2 separate regions of the Homo sapiens genome follow, and region 2 is linked to region 1. A link means that fine-mapping ties the variant in region 1 to the expression of a gene that starts in the linked region. Tissue or cell type: whole blood. Region 1 holds a variant in brackets; the other region holds the start of a gene. All regions are shown on one strand. Distances are between the middles of the regions.

Region 1 (8,145 bases):
AGCAAGCCGAGAGCACCCATTTTGGCTGGGGGTTCAGATCGATGGCCTTGTCCATGTTGTCCTTTCTGGCTTCCCTGATGGTGTCATGTTTCAGCGCATGCGCCCCAGCCTTTCCCATGTGCCAAACCAGAAGCTCCACTGCCCGTAGGCTGTCCCTGTAGCCCTGCTCCCTCCCTGGAGGCTGCTCTTCTGATTCTGAGAGCTGGCCTAGTGGTGCTGAGGGCCCCTTTCTGCTTCTCTGCCCACCTGCTGAGTTGCCACTCGCAGTGTTGTCAGTTCCCGTGTTCTGAGAAGAGGTCATGCCTGGGAGGAAGGGATCGTCATGCTGCATCGAATCCTCTCTCCGCCGTGTGGCCCCCAGGAGAGTAGCTGCCTGTTGCACCTGCTCCACACCTCCCCACAGCCTCCCTGCAGGTGCTGTGTGGCCGTGATGTGCAGAGAGCAGTGAGGGAGGGTTCATGAACCAGGTGGATCCTCTTTAAAAAAAAAAAAGTTTTTGTTATATCTCTAGAACATTTCAAGTCTTTTCCTTTTTTTCTGTTCCTAGCTATGGGGTTTTAGAGAAGTGGGAACAGGAAGGCATTTGTCTTTTTCTTCTAGTTTACTACATTTTCCTTCCGTAGTTCTTCAGCTGTGTGGAAACGGGCATCACAAGGACATAGGATCATAGATTGGGTAGGGAGGGAGGAGGATTTCTGGAACTTTTCTCAAAGGAATTTGGACCCTTATAAATGGGACTGAAGGTCAAAACAACAGTGATATCCTTGCTTAGAAATTGTCCTCAAGGAATAAACTCTGAGAGCAAGCCCGGGTTGGAAACAGATGCTTTAAAATCCTCTCTCCAGAACAGTGGTTTTTTGTTTGTTTATTTGAGATGGAGTCTCACTCTGTCACCCAGGCTGGAGTGCAGTGGTGAGATCTTGGCTCACTGCAACCTCCACCTCCCAGGTTCAAGCCATTCTCCTGTCTCAGCCCCCTGAGTAGCTGGGATTACAGGTGCCCACCACCACACCCGGCTAATTTTTGTATTTTTAGTAGAGATGGGGTTTCACCATGTTGGCCAGGCTGATCTTGAACTCCTGACCTCAGGTGATCTGCCTGCCTTGGCCTCCCAAAGTGCTGGGATTATAGGTGTGAGCTAAGATCAGGGATTCTTAACCTTGGCTGCACACCAGAATCACCTGGCAAATTAAAAATACGTGGACCTGCCACCAGAGCTTGTGATTTAATCAGAGTCGGCATCAGAGTTTTCAATTTTTTATTTATTTATTATTATTATTATTATTATTATTATTATTGAGACAAGATCTTGCTCTGTCGCCCAGACTGGAGTGCAGTGGTGTGATCACGGCTTGCTGCAGCCTCGACCTCCCTGGTTCAGGCCATCCTGCCACCTCAGCCTCCTGAGTAGTAGGGACTACAGGTAGGCACCACCACACCCAGCTAATACTTTTAATTTTTTTTTGTAGAGATAGGGTCTCATTATGTTGCCTGGGGTAGTCTCGAACTCCTAGGCTCAAGCGATCCTCCTGCCTCGGCCTCCCAAAGTGTTGAGATTATAGGCGTGAGCCACCGTGCCCAGATTCACAGAAGTTTCATACACCTTTCACCCAGGTTCCCCTAATGTTAACAGCTTACATATAACCTTGGTACATTTATCAAAACTAAAGGTGCAATCATACTAATAGCTAGAGTTTATTTGGATTTTACCATTTTTCCCAATGTCCCTTTTCTGCTGCAGCAGCCAATCCAGGATGCCATACTGCACTTAGAGCTGTTGCTTTCTTTTTTCCTAACTTTATATTTTGAAATAATTTCAGATGATAGGAAGTTGTAAAGGTAAGGGCCCCACGCACCCTTCATCTAGTTTCCCTCCATGGTTACATCTTATATGGTTGTAATGCAGTATTCCAACAAAGACTCTGACACTGGTGCGATGTGGGTGGACAGTCCAAATCATTTGTCACATGTACATCTGTGTAACTACCACTGCAATCAGGATAAAGAAGTCCCATCCCCACAAGGATCTCCCTCCCCACCTTCCCTAACTCCTGGTAACCACTAATCGTTCATCTCTTCTTATTTTGTCATTTCAAGAATGTTGTATAAATGGGAGCATAGTGTGTAAGCATTCGGGATTGTCTTTTTTCACTCGGCGTCATTCTCGGGAGATCATCCAGGCATTGCATGTGTCAACAGTTTGCTCCTTTTTATTGCTGAGTGGTATTCCGTGGTGTATGCATTGGCCCCCTGAAGGACACCTGGGATGTTTCCAGTTTGGGGCTATTCCAAATAAAGCTGCTACGACTATTCATGTACAGGTTTCTGTGTCAGGATTAGTTTTCGAGGAGTGTAAATGCTTGGTCATAGGGTTGTTGCATGTTTCGTTTTTTAAACAATCAAACTTTTTTTTTTTTTTTTTGAGACGGAGTCTCACTCTTTTGCCCAGGCTGGAGTGCAGTGGCGCAGTCTCGGCTCACTGCAAGCTCTGCCTCCCGGGTTCATGCCATTCTCCTGCCTCAGCCTCCCCATAGCTGGGACTACAGGCGCCCGCCACCACGCCCGGCTAGTTTTTTGTATTTTTAGTAGAGACGGGGTTTCACCATGTTAGCCAGGATGGTCTCGATCTCCTGACTTCGTGATCTGCCCGCCTCAGCCTCCCAAAGTTCTGGGATTACAGGCGTGAGCCACCGCACCTGGCCACAAACTGTCAAACTCATGTCCTCACCGGCAACCTAGGATGATCAGTTTCCCTGAATCCTCCACAGCACTTAGTGGTGTCCACATGTTTTTACTTCAGCCGTTCTGACAGGTGTGTCGTGATGCCTCACGGTGGTTTTTCATTTGCATTTCCCAGTGGTGGACACCTGTGTTTCGCTTCAGTGGAATATTCCTGTCTTTCACCCATTTTCTGATTGGATTGTTTCTTCTGTTGAGTTTTGAGAGTTCTTTGAGATTCCTTTATGGGATTTTTGGTTTCCATTGGTCTGTAGCTTATCTTTTTCACCCCTCCCCCTCCCCCCCTTTTTTTTTTCCTGAGACAGAGTCTCACTTTGTCACCCATGGTGGAGTGCAGTGGCACAATCTTGGCTCACTGTATACTTGACTTCTGGACTCAAGCAGTTCTCCCTCTTCAGCTCCCCATGTAGATGGGACTATCACCACAC[C/T]CAGCTAATTTTTTTTTTTTTTTTTTTTGAGATGTAGTTTCACTCTTGTTGCCCAGGCTGGAGTTCAATGGCGTGGTCTCGGCTCACTGCAACCTCCGCCTCCCAGTTCAAGTGATTCTACTGCCTCAGCCTCCCGAGTAGCTGGGATTACAGGCATGTGCCACCACGCCTGGCTAATTTTGTATTTTCAGTAGAGATGGGGTTTCTCCATGTTGGTCAGGCTGGTCTCAAACTCCTGACCTCAGATGATCTGCCCGCCTCAGCCTACCAAAGTGCTGGAATTATAGGCATGAGCCACCATGCCCAGCCTATGCCCAGCTAATTTTTTATAGAGATGGGGTTTCACCATGTTGCCCACACCTGGTCTCAAACTCATGAGCTCAAGTGATCTGCCTGCCTCAACCTCCCAAAGTACTACAATTACAGGTGTGAGCCACCGTGCCCGGCCATCTTTTCACCCTCTTAACAGGGTTTTATACAGAGCAAAAGTTTTCAGTTTTGATAAAGTCCACTTTACTGATATTTCCTTTATGGACTGTTGCTTTTAGTGTTGCATTTAAGAACAACTCTACCTAGTCTTAGATCCCAAAGGTTATCTGTTTTTTCCTAAAAGAAGTTTTATAGTTTTAAATTTAAGTATGCATGTGAGCCATGTTAATTTTTGTATAATGTGTAAGACTTAGGCTAAAGTTCTTTTTTTTTAATCCTATAGCTGGTCCAGCTGCTCCAGCACCGTTTGTTGAAAGGCTGTCCTTCCTCCATTGAATTACTTTTGCACCTTAAAGTCAGCTGGGCATATTTGTGTGGTCCTGTTCCCGTGATGATCTCGGCTCTGTCGATCTGTGTGTCTGTGCCTCTGCCAGCATTGCACTCTTGGTTCACATAGCTATATAGTAGATCTTGAAATCAGCTGGACTGATTCCTCCTCTCACTCTATTCTTTTTCAAAATATTTTTGCTATAAATTTGTATATGAATTTTAGAATAACCTTGTCTACATCTACAAAACATCTTCTAGGATTTTGATAGGAACTGCATTTAACCTGTATGTTAATTTGAGGAGAATTGATATCTTTACTGTATTCTGTCTAGCAATCCATGAACATGGCATGTCTATTTAAATCTTTGATTTCATCACGTTTTATAATTTTCAGCATACAAGTCCTTGCATATTTTGTTAGATTTAAACCGAAGTATTTCCCTTTTTCAGCAATTGTAAACAGTACATATTTTTAACTTTTGTGTCTACATGTTCATTTCTAGGAGGTAGAAACAGGTTTTTGTGTGTTTATCTTGCACCCGAGATTTTGCTGGACTCCCTAGTTGTCTGCTTTCTGTAGATTCCTAGGATTTCCCACATAGACAAGCATGGCCTCTGCATGAGAATACCTGGATCCTCCCCTCAGGGCTTCTGACTTAGGGTCTGGACATCAGGACTTTTTAAACCTTCCTGGTGATTCTGATAAGCAGCTGAGGTGGAGAACCACTGCTCTTTGACCTTGTCGTCAGTGAGCAGAGGTGCCTTAAGCACAAAAGCCTAGTGCCAGGACCCCGCATCCCGCCCACTCTGCACTCGGCCTATCTTGCTGTCGGCCGGCATGGCTAACAGGCGTGGGCCCTATCAGACAGTCCCTGGTGACTGAAGCATGGGCTCCTCTCGGCCCAGGAAAGACGGCTAGGCTGTAATGGATAGCCAGTTTTAATGAACAGAGGATACTGATTGGTATAAAAAGGTGTGTTTGTCACTGAGGTGTCCTCATTTTCTAGATGAGGAGTTGTCTTCTCCATGGTCTTGAACGCCTGCTTCGCCATGGCACCAGCGTCTGGGTGCACGCTGGCTGTCGCCACAGGGCAGGAGCTGCTCATGGAAAGGTGTGTGCCCCTAGTGTGCAGCACTGGTCAGCTTTTCCACATAGTAACAACAGCCTTGTTCTGGGCCTGAGAAGGCCCCCAAAGGTAGACGAAAAGGAACCATGGCCAAATGCCTATCAATCAGCCCGGTACCTAATGTAACCCAGGACCCATGTGAGGGAGGCTGAGCCTTCACCTTTCAGCCCTTCCCTCAGCATGTGGTTCTCAGTTTAGGGCAGAGCTTCTTAAGATTCACTTTCTGGCGTTTAGGGGCCCAGCCCCACCAGCAGTACAGGCCTACACCAGTGTAATTTGAAACGTACAGACGGTGGAAGAGGAAGTCTAGGGAGCTTGGGTCCTTAGACCACCAGGGAGCAGGGAAGGGATGGGAAGGGCTGGGGGGCGGCGGGGGCTCACCTTCCTCTGCTTCCCTGTGGGCTGGGTTCAGAGCTCCTCAGTGTCCTGGCCTCCCAGGTGGGATCAAGCAGGGTGGGTGCAGCTGCAGCGTTCCAGGCAAGAGCTCAAGCTCCAGTACCAGGAACATAAGGGGACATAAGGGCCTCAGGCAAACTAGGGTTACGGGCCACTGCCCCAAGAGTTGAGTGGGCCACAAGCAATCCCCAGTGCCCAGGCGCTTCCCCATGAGAGCCGCCAGCAGGCAACGGTGTGCCAGGCCGGCCTGAGCGGGGCCAGTACACAGTGGGTGCGAGGCTTCTCTCAAATGCGCGCTCCAGCTCATCAGTCTTAGGGCTTCTGAGGCAACCTAGTGGGTCCTGGACTTCTGTTGCTGTGGGGCCTCAAACCTGTTGAGTAGCCACCTCAGATGACCAGAACCCACCTCCAGAGTTCCTATGACCAAAGTTGTCTAGAGCCGCTCCGGACACTGCCAGGGTTGCTACTGACAGGAATGGGGTCCCCAGAGAAAGCCATGCCCACAGGCATCCACCAGCTGCAGACAGGCCCGGCCCCTGCATGGCCTGCCTTGGCTGCACCTTGTACATCCTGGATGGCATCTGCCGGCCACGGGCTGAGTCCCCACACACACAGACTGGCCCTGGAGAGAGCAAGGCAAGCCCCCTAACCTGGGACAAGTGGACACTGAGGACTCCCAGACCCAGCCCTGGGTGGCTCCAGCTTGGGACTGCTCCCTTAAGGCTCGTTCTTGGCCCTCACTCTCCTCCCCTTCCTGGCCCTCATCTGGACCCGCGCTTTCTGCTGCCTTGTGGTCCTCTGCTCCAGCCCTGGGAGGGAACGCGGCTCCCCTGACACTCGAAGCCAGGGAGGCCTCTCTCTTTGCCTGCTGGGCCCGGTGCCGCTCTTCAGTTCTGCCAGGGCTGCTGAGGCGGCACAGGCCAGAGAGGGAGGAACCAGGGCTGAGGGCAGGAACCACAGAGGTGCAGACGCGGGGGCGGGGCACAGGATGGAATGGTGGCAGTGCGAAAGGCGCGGCGGGGGGCGGTGCTGCGGTCAGCACCGGGTGCGGGGATGCGCCACGTGGGCCTGCAGGGCCTCCCGGATGCCGCGCTGCCAGTCTCGAGCCAGCTGCACCGGGGTCACGGAGGCCTGGGAGCAACGGTGTGGGTCAGTCCCTTGCAGGCGCTCCACCCGCCCTCGGGTCAGGAGCCAGGGCTGCGCCCACACTCACCGCGTTCCGCACCCCCAGCTCGGCCCCATAGAGCAGCAGTAGCTTCATGGCTTTGTAGCTGCCGTGCCGCACGGCCTCGTGCAGAGCCGTGTCCCCTTCCTGCTGAGAACGCAGGCAGTCAAGCTTCTGCCTCCGCGTGCTGCCCTCCTCATGCAGGAAGGTCAGGGCTGCTGTCACCGAGCAGACAGCACCTCTGGTCCTGGCTGGGGCTCCTCAGTCCCTGCTCCTCTGGAGCTGTCCGAGCCGGAAAAGACCAAGCGCCTGCCTTACCTTATCCTGTGCGTTCAGGTGGGCGCCACACTCGATGAGGTGCTCCAGGCAGTCGGGGTGCCGGGTGCGCACTGCCACGTGCAGGGGGGTGCTCCCGATCTGAGAGCAAGTGGGGGTCAGTGCTGGGTCTGGATTGGTGAGGCCTCCCTAACCCATGGGACTACGTGCTCTCTTCTCCAGGAACAGCGTCTGCTCCCGTGTTCCCGACAGGCCCCCAAAGCACCGTGCCCCTCACCTTGTCCCGGGCATTGACCCGGGCTCCCTGGTTAAGCAGCTGTTTGAGGATGACCAGATGTCCTCCGCGGCAGGCCCAGAACACAGGTGTCCTGTCCAGCTGCAAAACAAAAGCACCCAAGCACTCAGCTGCTGGGATGTGAAGCTGGGCGTCGACCAGAGGCTGGGCCTTTCCCCATCCTCACCAAGTCTCGCGCGTCCACTGTGGCACCTGCCACCAGCAGCTTGTTCACCAGCTGGCTGTGACCCTTCAGACAGGCCCAGTGCAAGGCGGTGCGGTGGAGCTGAGGGCAGAGATGGAAGATTAGGCAGAGGGAGTGCAGCCACCCCTAGAGACCCCACGCGGTCCCCTTCCCAGGGCCAGGTCCCTGAATGGAATTGCCACTTCCCCCACCACGCGATGGGCCGCTCCCTCTCCTCCGTCTGCAGGTGCCACTGGATTCATGCCCATAAGAGTGAAAATCCCTGCAGCCTCCTAGGCCAGGACTTGAACACACTGAAGGCAGCGCTCCTGCAGCTGCAGCTGCTGCCAGCCGACTCACCCAACCTGTGCTACCTTGTCATGGGCATTGGGGTCCCCTCCGTCTGTCAAGTACTTGTCAATCAGGTACTCCTGGTTCTCAGCAGCTGCCTTCAGGAACATCTCCAGGCCCACAGGCTCCACCTGGGCCTGGGACTGCGGCTGGTTCAGTTGAAGACAAGACCAAATCACTCCCGAAGGCCGCAGGTGCCCAAGATGTCACAGCTTCACCAGTCTGGCCCACGGGTCCCATGCAGCCCACCAAGGAACACTGCTGGCTCGTACTAATGCAGTTTCTTATTCTAATCCCACGCCAGGAGATTGAATAGACTGTGTGTGTGTGAGCGTGTGTGTTATGGATTGACTTGTATCTCCCCAAGATTCGTATGAAGTACTAACCCCAGGTACCTCAGAATGTGACCTTATTTGGAAACAGAGTCACTGAGGATGTAATTAGTT
Region 2 (8,171 bases), 20 kb after region 1:
GAGGGATGAGGAGCTGGGTGGGAGGGAAACTCGCTTTCATGGCATGCCCTTGTAGACTCTTCAGATTGTTTACCATGTGCAGGTATTTCCAGCTAGAAAGAGTTTAATTAAATGATCACTCCGGCTAACATATAGCAAGTGGACTACAGGAACAGGCAAGAGTATGTATAAGTTTCAGAAAACTATATGGAAAAGGCTTCATGACATGTCTCTAAGGGAAAGAAAACTAAAGTGCCACTGTACATTTTAATTTACACGCTCAGAAAAAAGGCTGGAGAATTACCCATTAGTCCTAAAGTGATGACAGGTGAGCAAGGGAATTACAAATGATTTTAACTGTCTTCTCTCTGATTTCCTGTTTTCCCCATGTTTTCTACATGAACATGTTATAACTTTAAAAATAAGGAAACGACATTTTTGGAAGGGGGAACGGGCCCACCTTATGCAGACTGGTCATGCCGTCGTCATCCACCACCCTGGGGTTGGACCCATGTGATAGCAGGAGCCGCGCGATTTCAGTGTGCCCGCAGTAGCTGGCTCGGTGCAGAGCAGTGGCACCCCCGTGGGTCTGGGCATCACACTTAGCTCCGCTTTCCAGCAGGAACTGGCACACAGCGTAGTGCCCATTGCGGCTGGCATAGTGCTGCAGGGAACAGAGACCGAGGTCAGATGGGAGAAGCCAGGCAGGTGACAAGGGTGGTATAGAGGTGAGAGCATGGCCTCCCTGCAGCGAGGGGCCTGGAATCATCTCAGGTGCCAACCCCAGCAGTCGTGTGACCTGGGCAAGCTTCTGCGTGACTAACCTGAGTTTGTTCAATTGAAAAATGGGGAAAATGATCATTCCTATCTCAAAGAATTGTTACGAAAATAAAACTAAATCATTGGCTGGGCGCAGTGGCTCATGCCTGTAATCCCAGCACTTTGGGAGGCCGAGGCAGGCGGATCACCTGAAGTCAGGAGTTCGAGACCAGCCTGGTCAACATGGTGAAAACCCATCTCTACTAAAAATACAAAAATTAGCTGGGTGTGGTGGCACATGCCTGTAGTCTCAGCTACTCAGGAGGCTGAGGCAGGAGAATCGCTTGAACCTGGGAGGCGGAGGTTGCAGTGAGCTGAGATCGCATCACTGCACTCCAGCCTGGGTAACAGAGCAAGACTTCATCTCAAAACAAAACAAAACCTAAATTATTGATGTAAAGGTCTCACACTAATTTAAAAAATCCAGGTTCATATGATGCTTAAAAAGAGAAATTTTGCTGGAAGAGAAGAAAGGGAGGGAGGAGGTAAAAGGTAACCATCAGTCCCCCTCCTCAGAGAGCAGGTGTCTCCTGAGTTAACGCTTCTGTCTCCTGACCCTGTGCTCCTCCCTAGCTCACCAGCGCAGTGTAGCCGGCCGAGTCGGGCTGACTTGGGTCCTCGGCCTTCTGGATTAAATGCTTCACTCGGCCCAGGTCTCCATTCAGGGCTGCCGACCAGATTCCTGCAGAAAGGCAACCAAAGGACTGAATGATGCTGAATGGGAGTTTCAGTGCTTGCTTTGCCTCTTGACCTCAGTTTTCTTGTCTATAAAGTGAAGAATATTCATTCCTTCAACAAATATCAACCGAGCACCTCCTCTGTGTCAAGGTTTGTTCTGAATGCTGGTGACTTAGCTGTGAACAAGACAGATGGGCACATCTCATCAGGACAGTAGGACTGGGCGGACACAGACATCTCCATCCCACTTCAAACACAGAAGTGCTGGATGAAGTAATGTTTAAAATGTTTGGATCTAGAGTGAAATTCAGGTCGGGCTGGGATTACAGGCGCCCACCACCATGCCCAGCAAATTTTTCTATTTTTAGTAGAGACAGGGTTTCACCATGTTGGTCAGGCTGGCCTTGAACTCCTGACCTCAAGTGATCCATTTGCCTTGGCCTCCCAAAGTGCTGGGATTACAGGCGTGAGCCACCGTGCCCAGCCAGAAACAACTTTTAAAAAATATAATGATGCCTCCAGAAGGCTGCCAAGGCAGTGTGACAATCTCCCACAGAAGAGGATCTCCCTGGTGAGCACAAAGACTGAAAGTTGCAAAACAAGAAGCAATCTGCTGCCCTAAGAGACAATCAGCAAATATAGGTGAGATGAGGGGAGTTCGGGGAGTTCAGGGTGGCATGGCGACAGACAACAACTAGCAAATACAAGTGGGAACACGCATGCCTCCAAAGTGAGCCATTATTGCACAATCCAAAAAAGACCTTAAAACAACAACATTGAAGGTGTTCACAGAGACAAAGGGATAGAATCCACAAATCAACAGAACATTAGGAAAAACAAAACAGCCAGATCTGAAACAGGAAAGTTGATAAATTAAAAAACAGACTCATTGAAACAAAACAACAACAATAGATGGGTCAAAGAGTACTGCAGACCTAGTCAAAGAGAATTAGTGATTTGGAATTCACCCAAAATGTAGTACAAAATGATAAATAGAAAAATATTGGCCAGGCGCAGTGGCTCACGCCTGTAATCCCAGCACTTTGGGAGGCCGAGGCGGGTGGATCACGAGGTCAGGAGATCGAGACCATCCTGGCTAACAGAGTAAAACCCCGTCTCTACTAAAAATACAAAAATTAGCTGGGCTTGGTGGCACGCGCCTGTAGTCCCAGCTACTCAGGGGGCTGAGGCAGAAGAATCGCGTGAACCCAGGAGGCAGAGGTTGCCGTGAGCCAAGATCGCACCACTGCACTCCAGCCTGGGCGACAGAGCGAGACTCCGTCTCAAAAAAAAAAAAAAAGATATATTACTGTGCGGATCACGAGGTCAGGAGATCAAGACCATCCTGGCTAACATGGTGAAACCTCATCTCTACTAAAAATACAAAACAAAATTAGCCGGGCATGGTGGCGGGCGCCTGTAGTCCCAGCTACTTGGGAGGCTGAGGCAGGAGAATGGCGTGAACCTGGGAGGTGGAGCTTGCAGTGAGCCGAGATTGCGCCACTAAAGCCTGGGGACAGAGCCAGACTCCGACTCAACAACAACAACAACAACAAAACAACAACAACAACAACAAAGAGTTACTGTAGTGAAGCGGATTAACAAATCTCACAGTTTCTTTTATTTGTGACAACAGTAGCTAAAACTGGCTTATCAAATACACTCTTCCCATTAATGTTTTAAAGAATGTATTTGTTTGCACAAAAAAATGAGGAAATTGTTTGCGGTAAAAATTGTTTTTTATGAAAGCAAGATGCCGGGTGCGGTGGCTCACGCCTGTAATCCTAGCACTTTGGGAGGTCAAAGCGGGCAGATCATGAGGTCAGGAGTTCCGAGATCAGCCTGACCAATATGGTGAAACCCCGGTCTCTACTAAAAATACAAAAACTAGCCGGGCGTCGTGGCACACGCCTGTAATCTCAGCTACTCAGGAGAATAGGAGAATCGCTTGAACCCAGGAGGCGGAGGCTGCAGTGAGCCGAGATTGCGCTACTGCACGCCAGCCTGGACAAAAGAGGGAGACTCCATCTCAAAAAAAAAAAAAAAAAAAGCAAGATGATGGATACATCAGAGTAACTGGCCTAACTTTGGATAAGGCAATGTTTACTTCTTAACAGCACAATTGACACTTACGGGCCGGATGATTATTGTAGCGAGCTGTCCTGTGCATTGTACCATGTATACAGCATCTCTCATCTCTACCTACTACACGCCTGTAGCACCCTCCTGATTGTGACAACCCAAAATGTCTCCAGATATTCAAAGTCCCTTAAAGGGCAGAACTGCCCCCAGTTGAGAACTGGGGTGTTTAGGGAGGGTCTCTGAGGAGATGACATTGGAGCTGGGATCTGAAGAAAAGCATCAGCTAGCTTAACGGTTGTAGGAAGTTCATTCTAAGGAGATGGGACAGCAAGTCCAACGGCCTTAACTCAGGAAAAGGTCTTGCATATTTGAGACACCAAAACAAGACCAGTGTGGCTGCGGCGTAGTGATTGGGGGAAGAAAAGCATGAGAAATAAAATGAGGAGGAGAAGTAGAACCGGCAGGGGTGGGTCTACAGAGCTTTGTAGGCCATAACAGGGAATGATGTGATTTCTAATTTTCAAAAAGCCGCTCTGGCTGCTATGTGAGAGTAGAAAACCCTGTAGGAAGGCAAGCGTGGAAGCAGAAAGACCCTCTGAGGCAACCACTTCAGCAGTGCAGAGGACAGCGGTAGGAGGGGCGGAGGGAAGTAGGCAGGTGCCAGAACCACGGTAAAGGAAGAGTTCCATGAGAATGCTTACACAGCAGTGGCAATCGAGGGCTGCATCCGCAAGGGCAGATGACACAGCACAGTGGTTCCCAACGCTCACAAGAAGCACCCTGGTTTCCCGCCTTCCTCTGTTCCTATTGGCACCATAATCTCTGTATAATCTGGGCCAAACGTGTTACCTCTCTGGGTCCCACAGATGAGATACTGTGCCCTGCCTCGAAGGCTGCCCGTGCGAAGCTCTTGCCATCTTTAAAGCATGCAGGCTGCCTGGCACCCGGGGCTAAACAAAGGCCACTGCTCTCCTTCACCGCGCAGCCCCCAGGCCTGCAGCTCCATGCCCCTCAGGTTGGGTGCAATGCCCCTGGTGCAGATTCTGCTCCCCGGGCCCTCTCTCAAACACCTGAGCAGGCTTGTGTCTCCCAGGGGAGGTCGTCCCCCGCTACTCGGGAGGGTTACGGAAACCAGTGCTTCCGCTTCCCCGCCGCCCGCGGGACAGGTGTCTCCTGGCCGAGCTCGTGCGGGGCCCTGGGAGGCTCTCAGTACACGGGAACCGTGGGTCCCGCCCGCCTTCCCGCACCAGGCCCCAAGCCCCAAGCCCCAAGCTCTCGGGGCCCCGTTCATCCGCCTCTCCTTGGCCCCACGCCTCCTCCTTGGGCCGGGGCCTGGTGAGAACCACGAGGGCCGCGCGGCAGCCTCACCCCTCTCGAAGTCCATCTCCTCCAGCGTCTGCTGTACGCCGAGCACCGCGCTGGGATGCGAGCAGCAGGGCCCGTCCGCGCAGGGCCGAGGCGTCGCCATCCCGGCCCCGGCGTCAGTCGATCCGCCCCGGGTCTCAGGCTCAGCCTCGGCGGGAGGGGCGGACGCAGGGCCCGCCCCGCGTCCCTGATCTGGCCGCTCGGCGTCCGCGGCTGTCGCCCTAGTCCCGCCTTCTCGCCAAAGCTGACCAATCAAACGCCTAGGCCTTAGCTCGAGAACCAATTGCAACGGTAGGGCGGGGCTTGTTGCGCCCGGCCGTGCCCCGAGGCCTCCGCGCGAGGGCGTCCAAGGCCAAGCGAGGACTGAGGCGCTGGGTTCCGGGAGCCGCGCGCCGCTGGAGGGCCGCCGGGCCGCCTGGCCTTGCAGGGTGTGGGGATGAGGCAGCTGGGTCCGGTCGGGAGCTTTCCCGTTACCTTCGCCATGACCCAGCCGTCCAGCGACCTCGCAGCCTCCTCTCTTTACCGCCCCTAGTCCCTAGGGCAGGGAGGCGCCACGCGCTCCGCGGTCTTTTTTTTTTTTTTTTTTTTTTTTGAGACGGAGTCTCGCTGTCACCCAGACTTGTGTGCAGTGGCGCGATCTCGGCTCACTGCAACCTCCGCCTCCCGGGTTCAAGCGATTCTCCTGCGTCAGACTCCTGAGTAGCTGGGACTACAGGCGCCCGCCACCACGCCCGGCTAATTTTTTGTATTTTTTAGTAGAGACGGGGTTTCGCCAGGATGGTCTCGATCTCTTGACCTCGTGATCCGCTCACCTTGGCCTCCCAAAGTGCTGGGATTACAGGCGTGAGCCATCGGGCCGGGGCGCGCTCCACGGTTTTTAGCCCCTCTTCCTGGCACCACCCCGGACCAAGGCCGACCGCCCCCGGGGCAGCGGCAAAGTGACGGCTGGAAAGGCCTCGAGACGCCCCTCCCCGTACCCTGCTCTTCCTTACAAGTCCAGCAAGGGGCAGGTGGCCACAACTTGTCCTGCCTGTAGCTCCACCTCAGGGCAGGGGCAGGGCCTTGGTTTGTGCAGAACCCCCTGGCCCCACAGTGGGCGCTGAGTTTACGGAATCGGTCTTCATGATCAAAACCCACCGGGAGGCCGTCTGCGGACCGCGCACCTTCGCAGCGTGCTCCTCAGCGGACCCCAGCCTTCTCAATTCCCAGTTAAAACCCAGGCAGCTGCCTGCTCAAGCCACGATCAAGTGTACAGGGGAGACCGCCTGATCGGCTTAGAAAGAGTGCATGAACGACAGAATGCAGGTTGGGTTCTGTGCCAGTCCCTCTCCAGGACAGTGGTCTGGTGCACACTGGATGTAAGTTCCTTCCCCCGCTAGTTGGGGCACGGAAGACCCTAGCATTCCTGGTGGGTAGAAGGCTGGAAGTCGTTTCTCCTCCCCTAAGCAGGTTGAGAACCCCATCCTCACACAAGCAATGATCTCATCTCCACAACCTTCCACTCCTTTGGCCCCTCATTCCCACTACCCGTCTTGAGTTCTGGGAAGGCACCCCCCCCACCACTCCGCTTCTCCCCTGGACTCCCAGTGCCCTGACTTCTCCTTCTGGCCAGAAGCCAAGGCTGGCTCCCAAGGGGCTATGGCCATGGTCTCGTTCCCAGCCCCGCAGCCACCACTGTGGGAAAACACTAGAGCTGGGCTGTCCCCTCCCACAGGCAGGCAGGGACCACAAAAGTGGTGGCTGCCCTGGGATTGTGGGGGAGGCCCAGTCCAGCCTCCCTCCACCCAGAGAGCCTTCCCTCTTGGTACCCAGAAAGGCTTTAGCCCAAACATCTTAGCCCCATCAGAGCAATCGTTTCATTTTCTCCATTTTATTTGTCAATATAAAAATACTCAAATATTTACAACAAATAAATACGCGGGGACACAATAAGTTACACTGTTAGGAGCCCTCCTCCTAGGGCTGGAAGAGAGTATGCCATTGTCCACAGCAGGCCCACCCTCTCCCTTCTCTCCCCTCACACAGCCTTTCCCAGCCCTGTACAGGAAGAAGGCAAGTATAAAATACCACTGAACCCCGGGGCCAAGTGGGAGGCCCCACCCACCCTTCCCCCCAAACACACAGGAGGCTCCATCTCCCTCCCCCCACCCTGAAAACATTCACAGCCCTAGGAGCAGGACTAGGCCCACCCCAAGCCCTGCACTCCCTCTGAAGGGGCACAGCACCCTGTCCACCCCACCTCCATATGTACATCGCTGCCCGACACTCGGGGCAGTGGGGGTAGGAGAGACAAAGTGATACGACCCCTTCCCCTTCATAGCTCCAATGACTCACCAGGAGGACCCAGGCCAAGGGAAGACTTGACAGAAACAGGAAGGCTATGCCACAAGCGCGCACGCGCGTGCACACACACATACACACACACACAAACACATGTGCAAATACAGACAAACACACATCTTGAAACTTCTGCCTTGAAAAGTTTTGGCGGCTGGGGTCCCGCGTGTCTGTGATTCACAGAGAGGAGGAAGATGCCTTCTGCGAGGCTGGTGCCCTGGTGAGCCACACCAAGTGGCAGTGCCCGTGCTGAGCAGAGCAGGTCCTCATGGCCGGGTGGGTGCTGGGCAGTATCTGTCCCAGACAGAGCAGGTGCCCGTGCCATGTCCCTGAGGTAGCTGGTGCCTGTGCAAAAGTAGGAGCTACACCTCCCACGCTTCCCGCCGACGCGGTGGGGGTTCCCCTCATACTGATGACTCCTCGGGGTTGGAGTCGGGCAGTGGCTGGCGTTGCTGCAGTTTGCGTCTCAGTTCATCCGCGAGCTCAGGCAGGGGGTGCCCGAGCCCTCCCCGGTCCTCCCCTCCTAGTTGTAAGCGCACGTAACCATTGGCATTTGAGTTCCGCCCACCCCCCAGGTGAAGCCGAGTTGGAGAAGGCAGAGGCTGGCCTGGGATGCCTGGAGGTGGCGAAGGGGGCCCCCCACCGGGCTGGCACCGGGCATGCCCAGGTACTATCTTAAGGGAGCCATCTGAATAGTAGTAACCGACAGGATCCCAAAGTTTCTCATCTGGTTCAGGACAGGGCCGGAAGGGGGGACTGGTGGGCTCCTTGGGCAGCTCCAGGGGGTACACCAAGGTCCTCTCAGTAGCCTTGGCCCCTTTCTCCAGCTCTTCCCGCAGCCGCCGGCGCAATGACAGCACCAGCAGCAGCAGCACCAGGCACACAGCCCCCAGGGCCACCACCGCCAGCCA

What was found. PIP is the estimated chance that this variant, and not a neighbour inherited with it, causes the effect.
Region 2: it holds the start of ANKRD39, and the variant in region 1 is fine-mapped to the expression of ANKRD39 in whole blood (TOPMed, PIP 0.96).

Annotation. Positions count from the first base shown.
Region 1 is chr2:96,833,065-96,841,209 of GRCh38, forward strand. CNNM3 (cyclin and CBS domain divalent metal cation transport mediator 3) reads left to right here. Exons shown (of 8, transcript NM_017623.5): 8 at 1-2,318. ANKRD23 (ankyrin repeat domain 23) reads right to left here. Exons shown (of 9, transcript NM_144994.8): 4 at 7,723-7,848; 5 at 7,352-7,450; 6 at 7,168-7,266; 7 at 6,933-7,031; 8 at 6,663-6,761; 9 at 4,848-6,580. The coding sequence ends at 6,485. It overlaps LOC124907859 (a long non-coding RNA gene), which reads right to left and starts at 1,325. Exons shown (of 2, transcript XR_007087143.1): 1 at 247-1,325. RefSeq lists enhancers at 1-431, 94-713, 4,261-4,817, 4,818-5,372 and silencers at 6,512-6,571, 6,712-6,811. The variant C/T (reference allele first, on the strand shown) is at 3,168.
Region 2 is chr2:96,852,962-96,861,132 of GRCh38, forward strand. It overlaps ANKRD39 (ankyrin repeat domain 39), which reads right to left and starts at 5,055. Exons shown (of 4, transcript NM_016466.6): 1 at 4,927-5,055; 2 at 1,377-1,480; 3 at 440-643. The coding sequence starts at 5,026. It overlaps SEMA4C (semaphorin 4C), which reads right to left. Exons shown (of 15, transcript NM_017789.5): 15 at 6,757-8,171. The coding sequence ends at 7,665. RefSeq lists silencers at 4,716-4,885, 4,916-5,585.